Linked DNA regions of Homo sapiens: region 2 is linked to region 1. A link means that fine-mapping ties the variant in region 1 to the plasma level of a protein whose gene starts in the linked region. Region 1 holds a variant in brackets. A gene starts in the other region. All regions are shown on their reverse strands.

The links. A credible set is the group of variants that fine-mapping cannot tell apart. PIP is the posterior inclusion probability: the model's chance that the variant is causal. Protein levels are from antibody-based Olink assays in UK Biobank. Linkage for the fine-mapping came from a reference panel and not from the study's own genotypes, which makes the PIPs less certain.
Region 2: it holds the start of ADAMTSL5, and the variant in region 1 is the best candidate, but not a certain one, in a credible set for the plasma level of the ADAMTSL5 protein (UK Biobank, PIP 0.59).

The regions. Positions count from the first base shown.
Region 1 is chr14:73,266,927-73,275,384 of GRCh38, reverse strand. It overlaps PAPLN (papilin, proteoglycan like sulfated glycoprotein), which reads right to left. Exons shown (of 27, transcript NM_001365906.3): 26 at 6,662-6,828; 27 at 762-2,890. The coding sequence ends at 2,721. NUMB (NUMB endocytic adaptor protein) reads left to right here. Exons shown (of 13, transcript NM_001005743.2): 13 at 1-169. Among named protein-coding and RNA genes, the nearest start is that of PAPLN-AS1, 25 kb to the right of the region's middle. The variant GC/C (reference allele first, on the strand shown) is at 5,990.
Region 2 is chr19:1,504,562-1,520,146 of GRCh38, reverse strand. ADAMTSL5 (ADAMTS like 5) reads left to right here and starts at 7,128. Exons shown (of 12, transcript NM_213604.3): 1 at 7,128-7,184; 2 at 8,987-9,302; 3 at 9,417-9,508; 4 at 9,719-9,779; 5 at 9,889-9,997; 6 at 11,577-11,704; 7 at 12,038-12,149; 8 at 12,504-12,590; 9 at 12,742-12,905; 10 at 13,219-13,408; 11 at 13,486-13,557; 12 at 13,831-15,125. The coding sequence starts at 9,204. The coding sequence ends at 14,132. LOC124904609 (a long non-coding RNA gene) reads right to left here and starts at 12,155. Exons shown (of 2, transcript XR_007067084.1): 1 at 12,031-12,155; 2 at 11,033-11,483. It overlaps LOC107985337 (a long non-coding RNA gene), which reads right to left and starts at 2,745. Exons shown (of 3, transcript XR_001753835.2): 1 at 2,628-2,745; 2 at 1,711-1,855. RefSeq lists silencers at 6,015-6,094, 6,934-7,303, 12,030-12,229 and an enhancer at 11,554-12,403.

The DNA.
Region 1 (8,458 bases):
TGAGAACATCCCCTTGACAGTTGCAGCCTCTTGACCTCGGATAACAATAAGAGAGCTCATCTCATTTTTACTTTTGAACGTTGGCCTTACAATCAAATGTAAGTTATATATATTTGTACTGATGAAAATTTATAATCTGCTTTAACAAAAATAAATGTTCATGGTAGAAGCTTTTGCCCATGAAGGGCTGTTCTTTCCCCTTTCCTTTATTAGTAAATGAATTTATTTTTCGTTCTTTTGGTCTTACTCTCCATTCTACTGCTGCTGTAAATCCCTAGTTTAGTGACTAGAAAAATACCCTTAAGATTCATATTTTCATTCATACTTTAATCCTGAGTGTATCTCTAAAGTCAGATTCTTGCTGCTCAAAGTGTGGTCTGTAACAGCAGCATGGACTTCACCTAGGAGCTGGTTAGAAATGCAGAATCTCAGCGGGGTGGGGCAGTGCTTCTCAACCTGGGCTATGCAATAGAATCACCTGAGGATATCTTTTTAAAATCCTAACGCCTGGCCTATATTCCAGACCAATTAAATCAAAATTTTAGTGGGGCAGGGGGACCCCCCAGGTTGTGTTTTTTTTTTTTAAGCTCGCAATATGGTAAAGTTGAGAACCACTGGCCTAGAATGAGTTTTACCTCTAATCTTAGCCCACTATTCTGTGACTGGTTCTATTAGAACTAGTTAGCTGCTAGCTAACCTCAAACTTACCTTCTGATGTGTTTATACCAATAGGCCAAAATCTGGTTTAATTAAACTGGGGATTTCAAAAAAGTGGCCTTTATTTTCCAATTTCTATAGCAAAACCAGCCATAAGTGAACATGGATGCTCTTCAATATTTTTCCAGTATTAAATGAAAAAAGACCTCTGCCCCAGCCCACATTTCCTTTGTTGAATGAGTAGAGAAGACTGAGAAGTATCACTCACCCGTGATGTGGTTTGTCCCTTTTCCAGCCAGTGTGTTGGTAATAAAAGTCACCTTTCAGAGCTTTGGTCCCTGTAATGCCCGTCTTTCCTGTGTCCAGGAATAACCTTTGCTACTAGGCAGTCCTCTGAAAGATTTGTAGAAGGTTAAAGTGGAAAGGGACTTGGAAGCTCATAGAATCCATGCCTCTTCTTTTAGCATCAAGGAATTAGAAGTCCTGAGAGATGAAGAATGTTGTCTTCCAACTCAAACCATTTCTGAAGCCATTTCCCTGTTACTGCATTGCCCACAACCCTTCCCCATTGCTATCCTCATCCTGCTAATGCTGTTTTTAATGACTGACAGTCTGATTTGTCTTTGGCAGCAAACATTTTGCTTCACAGATTCCTACTTAAGGAAGAGAGGGGCTCCTCATTGTCACTGTACAGAGCAGGCTGGTCAGCTTTACACAGGTGTCAGATGAACCGTCACAGCCAGATTTGCATGTTGGCCTCAGGAGGGCTTCAAGGTCCAACATCTCGACGTAAGGAGCGTTTCCAGTTCTTTCATGCTCAGATAACAGTGCTAACTGCAGCTGTTTCATCCCAAATCCCTATTTGAGGTCTTAACATCTATTCCATTTTGCCAACAAGGGTTATGCTGTTAACCCTCTGCACCAGATTTAGAGCTGACTGATGCACTGCCTAGAAGGGTGAGAGAGACTAGAGCAATGAACCATCGCTGATTTTAGCACAGAATACTTCCCTGATACAGCAGGACTTGGCATGCCCTTTAGAAAACAAACAGGTGTTAACTTTGAAATCATTACACATCTCCCTGCCCAGCTTTAAATTAAGTGGAACCCTGACAGCTAGCTTTAAAACACATTGATGGGCTGGGCACAGTGGCTCACACCTCTAATCCCAGCATTTTGGGAGGCCGAGGCGGGCGGATTACCTGAGGTCGGGAGTTCAAGACCAGTCTGACCAACATGGAGAAACCCCGTCTCTACTAAAAATACAAAATTAGCCAGGCATGGTGGCACATACCTGTAATCCCAGCTACTCAGGAGGCTGAGGCTGGAGAAGCGCTTGAACCCAGGAGGTGGAGGTTGCAGTGAGCCAAGATCGCACCATTGTACTCCAGCCTGGGCAAGAAGTGCGAAACTCTGTCTCAAAAAAAAAATAAAAAAAATGCATTGATGGCTGGGCGTGGTGGCTCATGCCTGTAATCCCAGCACTTTGGGAGGCTGAGGCGGGCAGATCATCTGAGGTCAGAAGTTCGAGACCAGCCTGGCCAACATGGTGAAACCCCATCTCAACTAAAAATACAAAAATTACCCAGGCATGGTGATAGGCATCTGTAATCCTAGCTACTCAGAAGGCTGACACAGGAGAATCAAGAACCCAGGAGACGGAGGTTGCAGTGAGCTGAGATCGCGCCATTGCCCTCCAGCCTGGGCAACAAGAGTGAAACTCTGTCTCAAAAAACAAACAAACAAATGCATTTAACTATTCCTGTGTAACAAATTATAAAGGGAAGCTGTAAAGTAAAGGTTTTTCTTATCCAAACAGATTGCTCTTCTTGAAAACAGCAGCCTGTGGTTATGTCAGAGATGCAAACACTGCTGAAGGCTACAGAGAGAAGCTGGTAACTGGCTGCCGTTGAGGCTAAACACTGGGTGGGTTTTTGAAAGAGCTAATGTATTCCAGAAGATAACTCCCTTTGCCAGCCAGAGAGAGGAAGCCAAGAGTCCATCTTCCTTTCTCCCTAGCCCTATGAACTATTTTGGACTGGGGCTGGAACTAGCCTTCATCCCTACTGCCAGATGGGCTGAGCGTGAGGCTGGAAACGTGAACAGCTGGCACAGCAGAAGCTGGAGTAATACTCATTGCCACAAAGCTGGGCCTGCAGGATCAAATCACAGTTGGCCAGCTCTGGCTGGTCGACGCAGTCCCTGCCAGGGTCCCTGGGCTGGGCGGTGGGTGCTGCAGAACGACAGGGGAGAGAGAAGGTGGTGAGGAAGCTCTGTGTATGCTGAAAATTCTCACCTGCCATTTCATTTCCTTCAAAGGAACACAGCATTATAACTGCCAGATTGAAAACGAAGTGCACTTACCCTGTAACCTTTTAACCATACGTACAAACTCTATGAGGGATGATGATTTCTACCTGTTTCTTGGCCTCACTTCAACATGCAGTGGTCCTCCCATTATTATTTGTGGCCTCAGCCCACTGAATAGCTCTTCCTAGACTCCCAAATATTTATTGACTGGATAATTAAACATCTCTTGAAGTTAACTCCTTATGTTTGAGACCTGAATTACTAAATGACAACTGTTCTTGCCTCTGGATTGGGAGAGCAGGTAGGATCAGCCCCAAGTAAAATTTTGAGTTAGCAAGAGCTCTTATCTTTTCCCTTTCTCTGCTGGGTTCCTCCAACCATCAAAGTTTTGTCCCTTCAATATCACCAGCTTATCTTAGTCACCTGGGTCCTCATCCTTCCAGTTTTTCACTTTCCCCAGAGGAAGCAATGCATATTAGACAAGGTAATAGGAAAACAGTCCTGTTAACGGTGGCTCTAATACTAACTACACTGAGAACAAAGCAAAGCCCTTGTTTTCTCTCCCTCTGAATTTACTAGGAACGTCTGTATCTCATAACTCCCTATTAAGTTTCATTCAGCTGGGTGTGGTGGCTCATGCCTGTAATCCCAGCACTTTGGGAGGCCAAGGCGGGCGGATCACGAGGTCAGGAGTTTGAGACCAGCCTGGCCAATATGGTGAAACCCCATCTCTACTAAAAATGCAAAAATTAGCCAGGCATGGTGGCGTGCCCCTGTAGTCCCAGCTACTCGGGAAGCTGAGGCAGAAGAATCGCTTGAACCCAGGAGGCAGAGGTTACAGTGAGCTGAGACCACACCACTGCACTCCAGCCTGGGTGACAGAGCAAGATTCTGTCTTAAAAAAAAAAAAAAAATTTCATTCTACTGCTTCATCTCTCTTCTGGAAGGGGTTCTTAAAACTCAGCTGACTTAGACCAGAGTGGTACCTTCCCTGAAGTCAGACCTCAAGCAGCCAGAGAAAGCTTATCTTTCTCTCTCCCCTTGTTTACTCACAAAATACCACTAAAAGACTGTACCTAGCAGCGAACAACCTTACAAACGTTTGGTATATTGGTATAACCAGACTATTACCTACCTAAATTTATATAGATAACAAAGCCATTAATGCATATTGTTTCTAAAAATCTGTAACTTTGGTATCAACTCTGAGCTGGTACAGCCCAAGACCCATCATAGTGGGAACTCAGCATAGTGATTAAGCACACCAGCTCTGGACCCATACTGCCCGGGCTCAATCCGGGCTCTGCCACTTGCCAGCTGGGTAACTCTGGGCAAGTTGCTTAAGCCCTTTATGCACATTTCTTCATCTGTGAAATGGGACTAATAACAGCAACAGCAACCTACTTCACAGCGATGTTGAGAAGTCCTCCCAGTAGAGCTATGTCCCTTTTACCTCAGCCTGACCACCCCAAGGCCTCCTACCCTGGTGCTAACACTGAAATTCAATGTGCCACCCAACCATGAGTAGGGCAGGGTCAGGCAGCCGCACACCGTATGACCCAACAAAAAATGAACAGGTGAGAGCAGCCAGCAGAGGACCGGAGGAGAGTGGCCAGACTGAGGCCATGTCTGTCCCATCTGGGACACACATCTCAGGCCATTTCAGCGTGGTGACCAGGTATCAGGCAAGTTTCTCATTGTAGTTTGGTTTTCCATGTAATCCCATCTGGAGCTAATCGCAAACATAATGTCTAGGTCCTCTTGACAGTTCTCTCACTGTGAATCTGCATTTTGCTTTGTCACACAGCCTTGATTTGGTTATTATGTAGACAAGGTCAATTTTCTGGACATGATACAGGTGAAAAGTAGTCCCTGGAGTGTGGTGCTTTCGCCAATGTAACTCCATCATTGTGCAGGCAGGCACTTAGTCACCATGTATCTGAGTGTCGCGGCTTTTGTAGCTGGGTGAGCAGGAGGGAATGGAGGGAAGAACGAGTTTTAACGCTCCCGTTCACCGAGCTGCGAGCGGCGGGAACATTTGTCCCTGTAACACCCCCTTGGGGCTCCGCGGTTGCTGGCATCTCCGAGTTTTCGGGCGCCACCATGTTCCCCTTGTCTATACGTTAGCACCCAGTGCGGAAGCCGCCTGTGCCGTGCGCTGAGCGCGGGGCCGCCACGAGTGCGGGATCCGGGTCAGCGGAGCGCAGCCTGCCCGGCCAAGTGGGCGGAGCGAGACGGTGGGCCGAGCGAGGCCCCGGACAGAGGTCAAGGCGGCGGGCTGGCGAAGCGGCAGGAAGGAACCCTGTAACCCTCCCTCCCGCTCGCCGAGCAACAGGTGAGAAAAAAGCCGCTGGACAACATTTCCAGCCACAACATGAGCACCTAGTGATGCCAAGCACTGAGCTGGGCCCTGGGGAGGCGATCTCTAAAGAGATCATAGACAGGAAGCCGACAAGTCAGTCCCACTCACAAAGCAACATTTCAGCCAGACCTTCAACTTCTAGTACTGGCCAGTCTCCACCCTCAGCCTGGCAGCCAGGAAGCAGCCAGGCCTGCCCCTCTGAGTGTAACCGTGCTCCTGGCATGGCGCTGCAGCCCTGATTGTCAGGAATGCCCAGAAGACCAGGCAGGAAGGGCCCTGGCACCTCCGAGCCTGGCATACTCCCCCAAGGTCTGTATCAGGCCTGTGAGAATTGGCAGCTTGGCCCGAGGTACCACTCTGTCTTCAGTCCCTCCGTGAACAAGAACCAAGGACACAAGGAAGCACAGGCTGGGGGACGAGCAAAGCCCTGTCCCCCTTTCCCTCCTGCTTATTTGAACATATCTCTTGTAAGTGTGAACTCTGAACCACAATCTGTTTCATCAGTTCTGATATGCACTTATTTTCACATCTCTCAAGTTGGTTTGCATCCTAATTGATGGTATCAGAATTGTGTCGTTTCACTGGCAGCATTTTTTTCTTGGTACAAAAATAATGCATCTTACAGGCAATTTGGATTTGTTGAAGTATGATAGAGTAGTA[GC/C]TAGAGGAGGTAAGGCTACAATATCAAATATCAAATGATGCAAGTAAGATTCCACTTAGGTACAAGTATAGTAATTTCGTGGGGGTAAAAAAAAAAAAACATGGGGAGTCAAAAGACATGGGCTCTAGTCCCAGGTAGGCCACATTTGCGGTGTGACCGGTGGAAACACCACTTACGCTCTCTGCATACCTGTCTCATTTGTAAAATGGTGATGATAATCCCTGCCCTTTCCTTTCTGGGTTATATGGTCAAACGGCCATAAAGTGGCCAGATTTTAGTGGTTTAGAGTGGATTAGAGTGGACAGATTTTAGTGGTCTGCCTTAAGTTTTAAGTTTTATAATGAAATTCCAGTCAGTCATATGTCTCAAAATCGGTGAGTCTGAATGTCCTGCATGCATTAATGTCTATTAAGCTATCTCCAGGGGCCCAGCAGAGCATCATTTCCTTCATCTCCACTACAGCCCTCTCAGGTGGTGGAGCAGCCCCACTGTAGACGGGAGGAAAATGAGGCTCAGGAAGGTAAGCCCCTTGCCCCAAGTCACACTACCAGCAACTGGCAGGGTGAGCCAGGATTCAAACCAGAGTCCCTCAGACTGCAGAGCCAGCCCTTGAGAACCAGTAAATCTACTGGGGAATGTCCTTCCCATCCCCGGATATAGACCTTTCCTACCTGGTGAGACCACCTTCACCTCGGTGCTGCGGCTGACTGCCTGGCTCCCCTGGTAGGCACTGCACGTGTAGGAGCCCTCATCCCTGGCCCGCAAGTTGTAAATGAGCAGCGTGCCATCTGGGGACTGGTGGACACGGTGGCCATCAGCCTGCACAGGTAGCCCGTTCCTGGAGGAGAGAGGACACTGGGAGAGCCATCAAGGGCCTCTGGAGGTCTGGGAGACAGAGGGAAGAGGTAATCAAAGGCCATTCCAGAGCCAACCGTTCCCACCCCTTGAGAGCAAACAGGTGGAGGACAGGGAGAAATCAAGAATGACCAAGGTTTCTAGGTTGGGTTACTGGGTGATGATGGTGCCCCTCCAACCTTGGGAGATCCAAGGCTGGGGTGAATGGCGAGGTTGTTTTCTGCTATTTCAAATTTGGGGTGCCTGTGAGATAGCAGGAGGCCTCAGATTTGAAGTCTGGAGCTCAAGAGTCCAGACCCAGATAGTGTGTCAGCATCGCACTGACGCAGCGAAGTGCATGTCTATGAGGTGGTCCAAGTCACACGGGGAGAAACCAAGGACAGGCCCTGAGGCACAGCAGAAGACAGTAGTTCCTGGAGCAGAGGGAAGGGAGAATTTCAAGAAGGAGCATACGGCAAGCAGAACGACACTACAGGTCACGTAAAGACTGCAAGGTGTCCAGTGGAGTTAGGGAGAGAGGCAGTGACCTTGGCCAGGACAGTGTCCTGGAACAGGGGCTGACATGCGGCCCCACTGCAGGCCCTGAGAAGTGAGTAGGGAGATGAACAGGCAGAGGCAACCAACATGGACAGCTGTAAAGGGGACACTATGTCAGCATAGGGTCTGCAGGGACATAGAGGCTCAATGGAAGGTGGTTGTGAAGAGGGGAGTTCTATGCATGTTTGCTGCTGGAAAGATCCAGGAGAGGCCAACATGGAGAAGCAGGCCTGACAGGCTGATCAGGGGATGGCTGGACTGAGCACACCAGTGGGGACACCTCTAGCGGCTCCCACCGCCTTCCCTGGGCTCAAGGCCACACAAGACACAGATGCCCTCCGCAATCGCGTCACCTCTCCCAGCCAGTGCACAGGCCGGTTCCTATCCTGGTGTCCTTTCTCAAATGCCCACCTTTGGCACTTGCTGCTTCCTCTACCAAGAACATCCTTTGCCATCCTTAGCTATTAAGGTGCAGCCAAAGTCATTTCCTGGCCCTCTTCCTTGACACTCCTCTGTGCACAGACAGCAGTTGCAACAAAACACATCTGGAGCTCCTGGGACACTGGGCCATCTGCCCGGGAGTACTCTGGGGGCTCAGGTGACCCCAGGATCCCCAGAACCTAGCCTAGTCCTGACACATTACAGGGAAGGAGGAGGCAAAAAATGGCTGCTAAATGAATGGACAAATATAAAACCAATTGATCTAGGGTAAAAGACCACCAAAGTCCCCAAAGCTGAGTGTAGTCCAGTGGTTCACAGCTCCAGGAGAGATTTTGCCACCAGGGGACATTTGGCAGTGGGTCTGGAGCCATTCTTTATTGTCATGACTTTGGGGAGGGTGCCCCTGGCATCTAGTGGGTAGATGCCCTGGATGCTGCTAAACATCCTGCAAAGCACAGGACAGCCCTCAGCAACCAAAACTTACCAGCTCCAAACTGTCAGCAGTGCTGAGGTTAGGAAACCTTAGTGTAGCCCAACCAGCAGAGAGCCAGTGGCCCTACAGAGCTTTGCTCTGTAGGGATGAGGGTGCTGCAGCCCTCTCCCCTGGCACCAGGCCTGGAAGCCGGAATGGAAGC
Region 2 (15,585 bases), not on the chromosome of region 1:
CGTCCAGACTTGGTGCCCCGAAACCAAGCCCTGTTCTTCCCTCTCTCAACTCTGTTTCCTCCTAAAAGCACTGTTGTCCAGATGCAGGGCTCATGCCTGTAATCCCAGCTACTCTACTCGAAAGGCTGAGGCAGGAGGATCCCTTGAGTCCAGGAGTTTGAGACTAGCCTGGGCAACACAGCGAGATCCCCTTCTCTACAAAAAATAAACAGTTAGCCGGGTGGAGTGGTGCACGCCTGTGGTCTCAGCTACTTGGGAGGCTGAGGTGGGAGGATTGCTTGAGCCCAGGAGGTTGAGGCTGCAGTGAGCTGTGATGGCACCACTGCACTCCAGCCTGGGTGACAGAGCAGGACCCTGTCTCAAAAACAATAATAATAATAATTAATAATAAAAGTGGCCGGGCGTGGTGGCTCAGGTTTGTAATCCCAGCACTTTGGGAGGCCACGGCGGGTGGAGCACGAGGTAAGGAGATCGAGACCATCCTGGCTAACACTGTGAAACCCCGTCTCTACTAAAAACACAAAAAATTAGCCGGGTGTGGTGGCGGGCGGCTGTAGTCCCAGCTACTCGGGAGGCTGAGGCAGGAGAATGGCGTGAACCCGGGAGGCGGAGCTTGCAGTGAGCCGAGATTGTGCCACTGCACTCCAGCCTGGGAGACAGAGCGAGACTCTCTCTCAAAAAAAAAATTAAAAAAAAAAATAATAATAATAAAAGCACCGTCCTCTCTTGTCCTCTGGGACACCCCTGCTCCTGATGTTTTCCCATCTTTTTTTTTTTTTTTTTTCAGATGGAGTTTTGCTCTTGTTGCCCAGGCTGGAGTGCAATGGCGCAATCTCGGCTCAGCACAACCTGTGCTTCCCGGGTTCAAATGATTTTCCTGCCTCAGCCTTCTGAGTAGCTGGGATTACAGTCATGCACCACCACATCCAGCTAATTTTGTGTTTTTAGTAGAGACCGGATTTCTCCATGTTGGTCAGGCTGGTCTCGACCTCTCAACCTCAGGTAATCCACCCACCTCAGCCTCCCAAAGTGCTGGGATTACAGGTGTGAGCCACCGCGCCTGGCCCCTTCCCATCTTTCTGGATGCATTTTTCCAGTTCTCCTTTAAGCCACCTCCTCCTTCTCCTGGGAGCCTGGGGTTCAGTGTTGGGGCCTCTCACCCACTCTCTTCACTTCCTCCACTGACATTGTCCAGGTGGGTGGCTTTAGCACTGGCAGCTGGGGCAGGTTACTCAACCCTCCTGGCCCATCTGTGTGGGTTCCCCCAAAGGCAGAGCCTGAAGCAAGGCTTTAGTGCAGAGAGTTGGTTCAGGGAGCAGGGTGGGAGCTGGGTACCCCCGGGGCACCCTGAGTCCCACACTCATCAGGCACCCTCTGAGGAACTGAATACAACATTCCCCAGAGTTGACCACCCAAGATGAGGACACAAGGCCAAGACATCAACCTTCTGGCCTTCCCATTTGTCCTCAGACGCACACCAAGCTCACCCTGCCACAGGGCCTTTGCATGTGCTGTTCCCTCTGCCACCCTCCCAGACTTTGCCTGGCATCCTCTTCTTAGCTTTTAGGCCCAGGCAGGAAAGGGCCACCTGTGCCCAGGAGGCCGCCCCTGCCCCAAGATGCCCTAGACGTGATCCATGCCTGCTTCTCCCCAGTTCCACCACAACCCAGAATGATGGTTTCCTTGCTAGCTTGCTGGTGTCTGTCCCACCTGACAGGGAGCGCCAGTGGCAGGGAGAGGGTCTGTATCTCCATTAGGTGCTGGGTGGACACTCAACCCCGTGCCCCTTCTCTCCATGGACGCAGCATCGACTTCCCATCAGGGATACTCATCAACTCCAGCCGTGTTCAAGGTGCTGCATGGGCATCAGAACCCACCCGATTACCACAGAAATAATCCATTTTTAATCTGCATGGGTCTTTTTACTAATTATGAGACAAATAGTTCAATGTCTTATGGAATCCAGGAACAGAAAAAGGACATTTGTTTAAAAAAAAAAAAAAAAGGCTGGGTGCAGTGGCTCGCGCCTGTAATCCCAGCACTTTGGGAGGCCGAGGTGGGTGGATCATGATGTCAGGAGATCGAGACCATCCTGGCTAACACAGTGAAACCCTGTCTCTACTGAAAATACAAAAATTTAGCCAGGCGTGGTGGCACACACCTGTAATCCCAGCTACTTGGGAGGCTGAGTCAGGAGAATGGCGTGAACCCAGGAGGCAGAGCTTGCAGTGAGCCGAGATCACGCCACTGCACTCTAGCCTGGGAGACAGAGCAAGACTCCATCTGAAAAAAAAAAAAAAAACAAAAAAACAAGCCTGGTGAAATCCAAATCCAAATAAAATAACATTTGGAATTTAGTCAATAATCATGAAATAGTAATTGTTATCACCTTTTTTTTTTTTGAGACGGAGTTTCGTTCCTGAAACCTTGTCTCTATAATAATAAAAATTTTTTAAAAATTCTAAAATAAGGTTGGGAACAGTGGCTCATACCTGTAATCCCAGCATTTTGGGAGGCCAAGGTGGGAGGATCACTTGAACTCAGGAGTTTGAGACCAGCCTGGGCAACGTGGCAAAACTCCACCTCTACTAAAAATACAAAAATTAGCTGGGTATAATGGCACTCACCTGTAGTCCGAGCTACTTGGGAGGCTGATCCCAGAGGATTGCCTGAGCCTGGGAAGCAGAGGTTGCAGTTAGCCAAGATCGCACCACTGCAGTACAGCCTGGATGACAGAGCGAGACCCTGGCAAAAAAAAAAAAAAAAAGTAAGAAACTAAAAATTGCTAAAGTGAAAAAAAATGGATGAATGCCTTCAGATGAGGCTCAATCCAGGAACTCAAACAACCTTCTCAGAAATCTAGACTTTTGGGCTGGGCACGGTGGGTGGCACATGCCTGCAATCTCAGCAGTGTGGGAGGCTGAGGCAAGAGAATCACTTGAGTTCAGGAGTTCGAGACCAGCCTGGGCAACAGGGGGAGACCCCCAACTCTACAAAAAATATAAAAATTAGCCAGGCATGGTGATGCATGTCTGTAGTCCCAGCTACTTGGAAGGCTGAGGTAGGAGCATCTCTTGAGCCCAGGAGTTTGAGACCAGCCTGGGTCGGGACAACATAGCAAGATCCTGTCACTACTAAAGATCAAAAAAATTAGCCAGATGTGATGGCATGCATCTGTAGTCCCAGCTACATGGGAGGCTGAGGTGGGAGGATCGCTTGAGCCCAGGAGGTCAAGGCTGCAGTGAGCTGTGATTGCACCACTGCACCCCAGCCTGAGCGACAGAGCAAGACCCTGTCTCAAAAAAAAGTAAAAAAAGAAAGAAAAGGACAGAAAGATAAAAAGAAAAAAAAGAAATCTGGCCCCTTCCATTTGCTGCCGTCTGTCAGCATCTGCTTGAGACAGTGCATCTCTTCGAGCAGTCAAGAAAGTCCAGCCTACCTCAACTCACGCCATCCCTGGAGCCCACCCCAGCCACGGGAAACCACCTTTTCCTCTAATGGCCCAGTTCAAGTCCCAGGGCAGGCTCTCATTGGCCCACTTGGGTCACATGGTCATCCCCCAGCCAATCCCCGTCTCTAGGAGATGGAATTATCTGTTTGGCCAAGCATGGGTTACGTCATACACAATGGAGGAGGTGGGCCAGTCCACCTGATCCACGTCGCCTGAAAGTGACAGAACAGGTGGTTTTCAGCACGTGAAGGTGGAGGGGAAGGGGCACCCTGGGGAGGCCATGTCACAGGCCTGGAGCCTGGGCAGTGGGGTAAGAAAGCAAGAGGTCTCTTCCAGGAATTCTGGACGGTGCCCGGGGCACTGGGTGCCTGCAGGGAACAGATTCCGAGCGTGCACAAGAAACCGGCACAGAATGAGGACCGGGCGAGCAGCGGCCAAGGAGGGTCCAGGGCCCTGAGTCCCATGGGGTGACTCCAGCCGGGGAGGGTCCCAACTCTGCGTGGCCCCTGCTGGTGCCCAGGAACAGACGGACAGCCCCAGGGACCGGGGGGTCCAGGGGTCTGTGGGGCAGGGATGGGGAGGCCCCACCCAGTCCACGCAGGAGGTTGAGGTATCCTGGGACCACCGTGTCCTAGGTTTTGCATTTTTAGTAGAGACGGGGTTTCACCTTGCTGGTCAGGCTGCTCTCGAACTCCTGACCTCAGGTGATCCACTGGCCTTGGATCCCCAAAGTGCTGGGATTACAGGCGTGAGCCACCGTGCCCAGCCCAGTGTCTGCAATTTGATGAGTTTGCACATATGCAGTCACCACACTCAAGATGACAGGCCTACCTGTCACTTCCCGAGGTCCCTTGTGTCCCACTGTTTTTGTTCTTTTATGGTAAGAACCCTTACCATGAAATCTACCCTGTGAACACAGTTTGAAGTGTGGGGTACCATACTGTTCACTGTAGCCCAGTCACACAGCAGATCGCGGCATTCCTTAAGCCTCAAGGCCATACAACCATGAAGGAAATGGAACCTAATTGATCCACATCCGCCGGGACCCGCGTCTCAGTCTCCCCTCTAGCCCTGACGCTGCCTCAAGGAGGGGGTCCAGGCTGAAATTCAGAGTAGGGGGACTCGGCTGATTCCTGGGTCAGGGTCCAGGCAAGGGCAGGGGAATGTAGTAAGCTGGGACCCCGCCCAACTGGGACCCCAGGAGCCTCTGAGCCTCAGCAGCCACCCCCTCCACCTACACCGGGTGTCTTAGGCTGAGCTCCCAGCCTCCTCCTAGGGACATCCAGAGGACAGAGGTGGGAGACGGTAGGGGACAAGAACTGGGGGTGGGGGGCAGCCCTCCACATCTTCACCACCACCTCTGCCAATCTTGCCAGCTCTAGAGCCCCCACGCAGGGTGCAGTGGCTGCGGTATGCACTCCCAGGAGGGAACAGGGGCTGCGGGGTACACTTTCCATAGAACTCAGTGCCTACTGTATGCGCTCCCTGCAGGAGACAGCGCCTTATGTATACCTTCCTTGCAGGATGCAGCACCTGCTGTATACCTTCCTTGCAGGATGCAGCACCTGCTGTATATACTCTCTACAGGATGCAGTGACTGCTGTATGCACTCCTCTGAAGGTGCCATATCTACTGTATACACTCCTTTGCAGGGCAGAGTCTACTCTATGCATTTCTACAAGATGCAGCACCTGCTGTATACCCTTCCTGCAGAGCATAATGCCTGCTGTGTGTGCTCCCTGTGGGCGCTGTGCTTTCTGTATACCTTCCCTGCGGGGCACAGGGCCTGCTGTCTGCACTCCCAGTGGAGCTCTGTGGACTGGACATCTGGGAATGGGGCACATCTGAGGAGGATACAATTGTCCTAATGACACATTGACACATGTCCTGAGCTGACTTCTTTCTTTCTTTCTTTCCTTTTTTTTTTTTTTTTTTTTTTTTGAGACGGAGTCTCGCCTGTCTCCCAGGCTGGAGTGCAGTGGCGTGATCTCGGCTCACTGCCACCTCTGCCTCCCGGGTTTAAGCGATTCTCGTGCCTCAGTCTTCCGAGTAGCTGGGATTACAGGCACTCACCGCCATGCCTGGCTAAGTTTTATATTTTTAGTAGATACTGGGTTTCACCATGTTGTCCAAGCTGGCTTCAAACTCCTGACCTCAGGTGATCCGCCTGCCTCGGCCTCCCACAGTGCTGGGATTCCAGGCATGAGGCGCCGCGCCCGGCCTGCCCTTCTCTCTTGACCCCTTCAGTGAGGGCCTTCTTGACATCCCCGCAACCACCACCCCCCAACCTGGGGCCATCAGTGGTGGGCCTGGGCTATTTTCTCCAATAGTCCAGGTCAGAAGGTGGGGGGTCATACATTCCAGGGGGCTGCCTTACCCGCTGGCCTGGGACTGGCTGGGTTGTTCACAGCTGTGCACACAGTAGGTGCTCAATAAATGGCATATGGGTGGCTCTGCTGACATGCTACAGGCTGGAGGGCAGACTGAGTTGGACCAGCAACACCCTGTATGTCCCCAGCAAACCTCTCTCCCTGTGGTCAGCGCTGTGGGACAGCAGGGTGGGCTTCCTGGAGGAGGGGGTGCTCAGACCGAGCCTGGGTGGAGCCCAGGGAGCAGGACAGTCCCTCCACCCCCTCCTTTAGTGCCCCAGTCCCTCAGCCCGCCCGCCAGGGGGCGCCGTGGGGCGACACCAGAAACTGGTGGAGCCCAGAACCCAGGGCCTGGTCTCATCCCTGCGTGGGTGGGCACGGGGCGGCTCACAGACGCCCGGCGGGAAAGGGTGGGGTGGGGGGAGTCCCGGGGTGCCCCCTCGCGTTGCCGGTCCGCGCAGAGCCGGATTCCAGATGGAAGGTTCGCGGTGGAGATCCCTGCCGGGCCCACTGCTGGGATGGGGAAACTGAGGCCGGAGAGGGTGTGGCCGCGGCTGTGAGGGAGAGGGACCGCCTGGACCCGGGTCTGGCTCTGAAGCCCCGCTGGCAGCCCCGGGGCCCGGCAGGGAGGGCGGGAGGCGGGGTGGGGCGCGTCCCCTGGTGACAGCAGCGCCCGGGAATGCGCCAGCTGGGAGGGTCTCTCCGCCCCCCGCGCGCGGCCCACGGGGCCGAGCCTCTCCCCAGTGCGCTGGGGCCCTGCGCTGGGGGTGACCGGGACCTGGGTCGGGGAACCCCCGGATGGGAGCCCAGGCGCGCCAGGGTCCCCATCCACGAGCAGGTCGACCCCCCGCGAGAGGGGTGAGGGGCAGGACCAGGGGAGGGGGCTGTGACCGGGGATGGGGACGCCGGTGGGACGCAATCCGGGCGTCGGCGGGGTAGGGGCAGCGCCCGGGACTCCCAGACCCAGGGCGGGGTGACCTCGGTTCGCGCACATTCCCGGGCCCTGAGCGCGGCGCCCGGAATAGCAGCCCCGGGGCAGAGGAGGGCGGTCAGTCCCCGCGCCGCGCCCCCGCCCGAGCCTGCCAAGGTCACCCGGACCCGGGCGCCCGACACCAGCCTGCGGCTCCGGGACCCCTGCGCTCGCGTCCGCCGGGCAGTCCCCTGCCGCAGATCCGCGCCCGCCGCGCGAGGGCGCCCGGGGCCGCCGCCCCTCCTGACCCGGGCCTGGGCGCGCCTGCGGAGGCCGCGGTGGGAGGGACCGTCCCAGGCTCCCCACCCCGCCCAGCACCTTGGGCCCCGCCGCTTCCGCTCGCCCTGGGGCCGCTCAGGGAGCCGGGACGCGCTGCCTGGGCTCCGCGCAGCCGGTAAGTCCATCTGCCTATCCTCCCACTTTCTCCGGGGGAAACTGAGGCCCAGAGGTGCGGCTTGCCTTGAGATCCCTCCGCCAGTCCGGGCTGCAGCCCACACGGGGAGGGGAGAGCCTTGATTCTGGGCAGGGCCCATTGAGGAGGGGGTAGGGTGGTCCTTGTAGCCCCCCACTTTTCACCACCTAGACCCCCACTCCTCAAACCAGGCTTAGAGTCCGGTGGGGGTGGTCAGAAGGTCAAGCCCCCTCCCCCTGTTTTTTTTGGTTGGTTGGTTGTTTTTGAGACTGAGTCTCACTATGTCGCCCAGGCTGGAGTGCATTGGCCCCATCTCGGCTCACTGCAACCTCCGCCTCCTGGGTTCAAGCGATTCTCCTGCCTTAGCCTCCCAAGTAGCTGGGATTACAGGTGTGCACCACCACACCGGGCTAATTTTTGTGTTTTAGTACAGATGGGGTTTTACCATGTTGGTCAGGCTGGTCCCAAACTTCTGACCTCAGGTGATCCGCCTGTCTTGGCCTCCCAAAGTGCTGGGATTACAGGCGTGAGCCACCGCACCTGGCCCCCCTCCCCTTGTTTTAAGTTTCTGGTGCAGACTTCTTCCTGCTTCCTGGGCCAGCCCAGGCTCTAGGCTCAGAGAGGGGCACGGATGCAGCAGACCACACAGCTGTCTCAGTACCTAGAGATACCCAGGACCCTAGACCCTTGGTGCCTCAGAAGTCCAAATGCTGGAGCCAGGGAAACAGGGTCCAGGTGGGACCCAGCCTCTTCCCCAGCTGGTGCCCGGGCCGGGGCTCACCCACCTGCCTTCAGGCTCTGCTGGCAGCAGGACGCCCTGGCTCACTTGGCGGCTGCTTCCCTTCCCCCCTCTTTCCCCCTGCAGGCTGGGGTCATGAGGAGGGTGTGGATGGCAAGTGACTTCATCCCTGCCCTGACAGGATGGAGAAACTAAGGCCCAGAGAGGCAGTCAGCCTCCTCCCCTTCCCTGCTCCAGCCTCAGCAGTGGCCCCTTCCCTCCACGGGCTGCCCCGGAGCTCAGTCCCACCCCCTCCGCCGATGAGGCCATGAGGCACCGAACGGACCTGGGCCAGGTCACCCCCTCCCTGTCCCATCCCCAATCCGGGGGACTCCCTGCTGTCTGGGAGCTGAGGGAGCCCTGGGGCCGGGGTGCAGCTGAGGGCCTCTTCTAGGGACCCAACTCCTGATCCAGCCCCTGCCGGCCGCACCTTCCGCAGGGTGTCACAGAATCATGGACTGAGTCCACTTGGCCCCCACTGCACAGATGGGGAAACTGAGGCCTGGGAGAGTGGAGTGGCTGGCCTCAGGCCACACGGAAAGGTAGAAGCAGTGATGGTGGGGAGGGCGGGGAGGGGGCCCCAGCCCTAGGAGGCACCTGTGTACTATTTTTGAATGATCCCTCCAATCATCAAGCATCGATTAAGCACCTACTGTCTGCATTATAGCACAATACACATATCAATAATATTGTAGGCTGGGTGCAGTGGCTCATGCCTATAATCCTAGCACTTTGGGAGGCCAAAGCAGGTGGATCACTTCAGGTCAGAAGGTTGAGACCAACCTGGCCAAGATGGTGAAACCCTGTCTCCACTAAAACGGCAAAAATTAGTCCGGCGTGGTGGCAGGCACCTGTAATCCTAGCTTCTCGGGATGCTGAGGCAGGAGAATTACTTGAACCGGGGAGGGTTGCAGTGAGCCGAGATCGCACCCCTGCACTCCAGCCTGGGCGACAGAGCGAGACTCCGTCTCAAAAACAAACTAACTAACAACAATAATAATTGCAGATGACATTCTGAGTTCTTCCTCTCCATACCGGGCTCCACGTCTCCTGTCTTCTTTACCTGATCCACAGGACCCCTCAACTTTCCTGTAAGGGAGGCTCTATTACCCCGTTTTTCAGAGACGAGAGGTAGGGCTCAGAGAGGTTTAGTTACTTTCCAAGATCACACAGCCAGTCAGGGCAGAGCCGGGACACAACCCTGTGTCTCTGGCGGTGGCTCTATGGACTCGGCCCCTCTGTTCCCCAGGCCCCACCTCTTCCAGAACCTCCTGCTCTTCCTGTGGGCCCTGCTGAACTGTGGTTTGGGGGTCAGTGCTCAGGTAAGGGGGGGCATGAGCCCAGGGGGTGGCGAGTGGGAATGGGGACCCAGTCAGCAGTGTGGGGTCACCAGCGTCCCCCTACAAGGCTGACCGTGCCTCTGTCTCCCCAAGTAGGGTCCGGGCGAGTGGACCCCGTGGGTGTCCTGGACCCGCTGCTCCAGCTCCTGCGGGCGTGGCGTCTCTGTGCGCAGCCGGCGCTGCCTCCGGTGAGCGGGGCCCGGAGGGGGTCCCTGCCCCTCCTCCCCCGCCGGCCCAGCCCGGCCCCTGGCCGCACCCTCGGCCTGCCCACACATGCTGTGCCCTTTAATCCCCCTGATCCCGCTGGAATGCGGGTGGGGTTGGCGGGGGCGGAGGGTGGAAGGCCAGCCCTGGGAGGGGGTCCCTGGGGGTTCTCGCCACACTCTGTCTCCCTTCAGGCTTCCTGGGGAAGAACCGTGCTGGGGAGACTCCCATGAGTACCGCCTCTGCCAGTTGCCAGTAAGCCCTGCCCACCTCCCAGACCACTCTCCCACCCCAGACTGCCTGAAGCCCACCACCTGCCCCTTGGGGTTGTCCCAGCCTCTGGCTCACCTATCTCTGTCCCTAGGACTGCCCCCCAGGGGCTGTGCCCTTCCGAGACCTACAGTGTGCCCTGTACAATGGCCGCCCTGTCCTGGGCACCCAGAAGACCTACCAGTGGGTGCCCTTCCATGGGGGTGAGTAGTCTGGTCTCCTGTGGTCAGAATTGGTCCAGAGCGAACAACTCATTAGTCTCAGGGAGAGGGTCTTGGAGGGTTGCAAAGAGAAGAGGGTATTAGTGCTAGGGCTTTGAAGGATATGTAGGAGTTAGTGAAACAGAAACAGCATATGTTAGGCGTGAAACAGGGGCAGAGGGAAGCAGGGTTCATTCTGCACAGGGCTGAACACCCAACTAAGGATTGACTTAGAGCTGTATCCAGAGGCCAACACTTCTCAAACTTATCCCAGTAGCAGGAAATGTTGCTGCATTGAGCTGAAAATAGCGAGTTATATAACTACGTGCCCGGGTCAGTGCGCCTCCAGATTTCAGGGAGACAGGCAGCTTCACACGCCATGGGGAAGGCAGACACAGATATAAGAAAAGCCTAGAATGGACAAAGTGCCATCCATCAACCTCATTTCCTTCCTTCCTTCCCTTTCTTCCTTCCCTTCCTTCCCTTTCTCCCTTCCCTTCCTTCCTCCCTCCCTCCCTCCCTCCCTCCCTTCCTTCCTTCCATCAATCTGAGAATTGGAGGAAACCTGCTGTGATCCCACCCCCGCAGAGGCCCACTAGGGCCAGCCCAGGATCCGTTCCAGGCAGGGTCCACCAGCCAGGCTCAGGGAAATGGGAGCCAGAAGGAGCTGGAGAAGGAGGAGTGGAGATCAGGGCTGTCGGCCTTTGTGTTTGATCAGACAGCTCATTTTGCCCCACTTCCAGGCAGAAGGGGAAACTGAGGCCCAGGGAGGACCAGCGACACAGCTCAGTTGTGCGGGACTCAGTCCAGTCAGTACTGGACAAACACTTCATTGGGTACTTGCTGGTGCCTGGGCCAGATGCTCAGATCTTCTTTTTTTTTTTTTTTTTTTTTTTTTGAGATGGAGTCTCGCTCTGTCACCCAGGCTGGAGTGCAGTGGCATGATCTTGGCTCACTACAGCCTCCACCTCCCTGGTTCAAGCGATTCTCCTGCCTCAGCCTCCGGAGTAGCTGGGATTACAGGCTCCCACCACCAAGCCTGGCTAAATTTTTATTGTTGTATTTTTGGTAGAGACGGGGGGGTCTCGCCATGTTGCCCAGGCTGGTCTTGAACTCCTGGCCTCAGGAGATCTGCCCACCTCAGCCTCCCAATGTGCTGGGATTACAGGCATGAGACACCACACCTGGCCTTTTTTAAGGCCATCCATCTGCACACTGATTGAATTCTTGCTTCTGTATCCTAGAGCTTGGAACAGTGTCTGGAAAACAGTAGGTGTTCAGTGGAATGAAGAATGAGTAATGGTGTTAAAAATGAATAATATGTAAGGACTCCTAATATAAAGACAATGAATGAATGAATGAATGAATGAATGCAGCCCCAGGATACTTGCCTGCGAGTCCCAGGTTGCTGGACGCAGAGCACCTACGGTCCAGTCCTGGCTCTGCCTCAGCCTCGATGTGTGGCTTTGGCCAAATCTCTGGGCTTCATCTGCCCAAAGTGATGGTTGCCTGATGAAGCTTGGTAGAGGGGGACTGGAGCTCGAACAGGGGTCCCCGGCCCACCGACTCCTCCTGCCCTCAGCGCCCAACCAGTGCGACCTCAACTGCCTGGCTGAGGGGCACGCCTTCTACCACAGCTTCGGCCGCGTCCTGGACGGCACCGCCTGCAGCCCGGGTGCCCAGGGGGTCTGCGTGGCTGGCCGCTGCCTTGTAAGGACTCGTCAGGCCCCGCCCGAGCCCCGCCCACCTCCCACTCAGGCCCCACCCATCCTAGGCTCCACCTCCGCCCTCCTCCCATTAGCCTCCACCCCCTCCCTAGGCTCCACCGCCTTCCCCCTCCCCTTCCAGGCCCTGCCCCCAGCCCCCCTTAGGCACCCACTCCCGGGCGCCAAGCCCATCCTCCTCCCGCCAGGTCCTGCTCCTCCCTAGGCTCCACCCCCATCTTCCCTCCAGGCCTCGTCCTCTTGCTCCCAGGCACTGCCCTTTCCCCAGGTCCTGCCCCTCCCAGCGTCAGTGACGCCGCGCCTGTCCTTCACCCTTTAGAGCGCCGGCTGTGATGGGTTGTTGGGCTCGGGTGCCCTCGAGGACCGCTGTGGCCGCTGCGGAGGCGCCAACGACTCGTGCCTTTTCGTGCAGCGCGTGTTTCGTGACGCCGGTGACTACCTGCCCCGCCCTCCCTGCACACACGTCAGAGTGGGCCCTTTAACGAGCCGTGGCCCGGAAGCAAATTTCCGTGCTGATTGGCCAGTGTGCGGCCCAGCCCCCCTTTCTCCTCATCCTGATTGGCTACTGACAGATTGTCCCGCCCTTCCCCAGGACAGATGGGGTTTTAACCCTTTCCCTGCCACACTGAAGCAATAGTAATTGTAACTCCAAACGTTTACGGAGGGTTTTCCGGTTCCCAGGACCCTGGCTAGCTGTCTTACCCGCAGTAGCTCATTAAATCCTCAAGTCATCGCTCAAATACACCCCCACTGGCACCCCAACACCCTCCTACCCTCCCACCCAGGTGCCTTCGCTGGGTACTGGAACGTGACCCTGATCCCCGAGGGCGCCAGACACATCCGCGTGGAACACAGGAGCCGCAACCACCTGGGTATCCTAGGATGTGAGGCGAGAGGCACCCGGCTGGGCACCCGGGGGCGGTTGTCCCTGTTTACAGATGGGGAGACTGAGGCCTGAGGAGGGGACCCCAGGGTCTGGGAGACGAGACGACAGGTTCCTGAGGGCTGACTGTTCCCTTGCAGCACTGATGGGGGGCGATGGGCGCTACGTGCTTAATGGGCACTGGGTGGTCAGCCCACCAGGGACCTACGAGGCGGCCGGCACGCATGTGGTCTACACCCGAGACACAGGGCCCCAGGAGACATTGCAAGCAGCCGGGCCCACCTCCCATGACCTGCTCCTACAGGTGCCACTGGGCCTCCAACAGGGTCAGAGGGGGTCGGCTGGGGACAGAGGGGAGAGGCTGGGGACAGAGGGTAGGAGTGGAGGTGACTGGGGCCAGAAGGGGGAGTCTGGGGTCAGAGGGGAGAGGCTGGGACAGAGCATCAGAGGGGGGAGGGTGGGGACAGGGTCAGAGGGGATCAGCTAGGGACAGAGCATCAGAGGAGGGAGGCTGGGGGCAGACAGGATCAAAGTGGGGAGGCTGGGGTCGTAGGGTCAGAGGCAGGAGGCAACCCCAGCCTCCTGTGAAGCTCCCTGTGTCCCCTCCCCTGCTCCAGGTCCTCCTGCAGGAGCCCAACCCTGGCATCGAGTTTGAGTTCTGGCTCCCTCGGGAGCGCTACAGCCCCTTCCAGGCTCGTGTGCAGGCCCTGGGCTGGCCCCTGAGGCAGCCTCAGCCCCGGGGGGTGGAGCCTCAGCCCCCCGCAGCCCCTGCTGTCACCCCTGCACAGACCCCAACGCTGGCCCCAGGTGAGGTGGGGACAGCCAGGGTGGGGGATGAGTGGGGACTGAGGCCTGTGCCCCTCACAGCACCGCCCATCCCACAGACCCCTGCCCACCCTGCCCTGACACCCGCGGCCGCGCCCACCGACTACTCCACTATTGCGGCAGTGACTTTGGTGAGACCCCCGACCTCTACCCTGACTTAGCCCCTACTAACCTGGCCTCCTCCTGACCTCTGACCCTAATCTGACTTTACCCTTGACCCCTTCTTCTGATCCTAATTTGCCTCTTGACCCTAATCCCTCATTGATCCCTGACGTGATCCTGACTCTAGTCCCTATAGATCCCGAGGTCCCACCTGACCCTCAGTCCCTCTTCTGGCAAGGGAGGGGGCGTAGAGATTTGCGCAGAGTTGAGCAGCCAGCCAGCTTAGCACGTCCCCTCAACAGTGTTCCAGGCCCGAGTGCTGGGCCACCACCACCAGGCCCAGGAGACCCGCTATGAGGTGCGCATCCAGCTCGTCTACAAGAACCGCTCGCCACTGCGGGCACGCGAGTACGTGTGGGCGCCAGGCCACTGCCCCTGCCCGATGCTGGCACCCCACCGGGACTACCTGATGGCTGTCCAGCGTCTTGTCAGCCCCGACGGCACACAGGACCAGCTGCTGCTGCCCCACGCCGGCTACGCCCGGCCCTGGAGCCCTGCGGAGGACAGCCGCATACGCCTGACTGCCCGGCGCTGTCCTGGCTGAGCCCCTGCAGGAGCCCCGGCCACACACAGCAAGAAAGATACATCTGACCAGCCTCAACGTCAACGTATTTCCCCTCTCACCCTGGCTTCCAGGCAGCTCTGAAATACGTCCCACCTGTGCAGCTATGTGACTCCCTCCCACACACGCTTAAGACACCTCTGCATGCAGTCAAAGCCACTGTCACAAGCCGGCAGGCACTGGTGAGGAGGCACTAAGGAGACTCTGACTTTTATTTCGCCTCTCTCCTTGGCTGCCAGGAAGCTCATAGCTATTTATACTCAGAAAGTTTAACGCTGCTTTCTTTCTCTTTGCGCGCGTCACACTTGCTTGGAGACACTGTCATGAACGAGCATGACACCCTGCTGCCCTGGGTACCCAGAAGATCATCTGTTTACTTCCCAGACACTGTGCTGTCTCTGCTCTCTGCTACTCACACACACCCTCATGTGTGAAGGGCAGAGACACTGTCACAAACAGGCATGCCCCTTAGAAGACATGCCTAACCAGGCACTGTAACGTACCAACGTACCAATTTCCCCTTTTCCCCTGGCTACCAGGAAACTCGGAGACAATCTTTTCAGCCTCAGCATTTCTGGCTGGATTTCCACCCATCAACACGTGCTTGCTCCTCCTTTTTTTTTTTTTCTGAGGTAGACCCTTGCTCTGTCACCTAGGCTGAAGTGCGGTGGTGCAATCATGGCTCACTGCAGCCTCAAATTCCTGGGCTCAAGCGATCCTCCCACCTCAGCCTCCACAGCAGCTGGAACTCCAGGTGTGAATCACCATGCCCGGCTAACTTTTAAATTTTTTGTAGAGATGGGGTCTTGCTACGTTGCCCACACTGCTCTCCAACTACTGGCCTCAAACGATCCTCCTGCCTCGGCCTCCCAAAGCACTGGAATTTCAGGCATGCACTATCGTACTGGCTGTTCACCCCCCTTTTATTCCTCTTTAATTTTTACAAGCACTTTTTAAAAAAAAATTTTACTTTAAGTTCTGGGTGTGTACAGAATGTGCAGGTTTATTACATTAGTATACACGTGCCATGGTGGTTTGTGGCACCCATCAACCCATCATCTAGGTTTTAAGCCCCACATGCATTAGGTATTTGTGCTAATGCTCTCCCTCCCCTCGGCCCCCACCCCACAAAGGACCCGGTGTGTGATGTTCCCCTCCCTGTGTCCATGTGTTCTCATTGTTCAACTCCCACTTGTGAGTGAGAACAAGTGGTGTTTGGTTTTCTGTTCCTGTGTGAGTTTGCTGAGAATGATGGCTTCTAGCTTCATCCATGTCCCTGCAAAGGACATGAACTCATCCTTTTTTATGGCTGCAGAGCACTTTTTTTTTTTTTAAGCACCCCAGTCACATGCACTCGGTCACAGAGACTCAGGGACACGCTGGTAGAACCCCGTCTCGACCTTGCTCATGGGTAGGCACGCATGTTCACACGCAC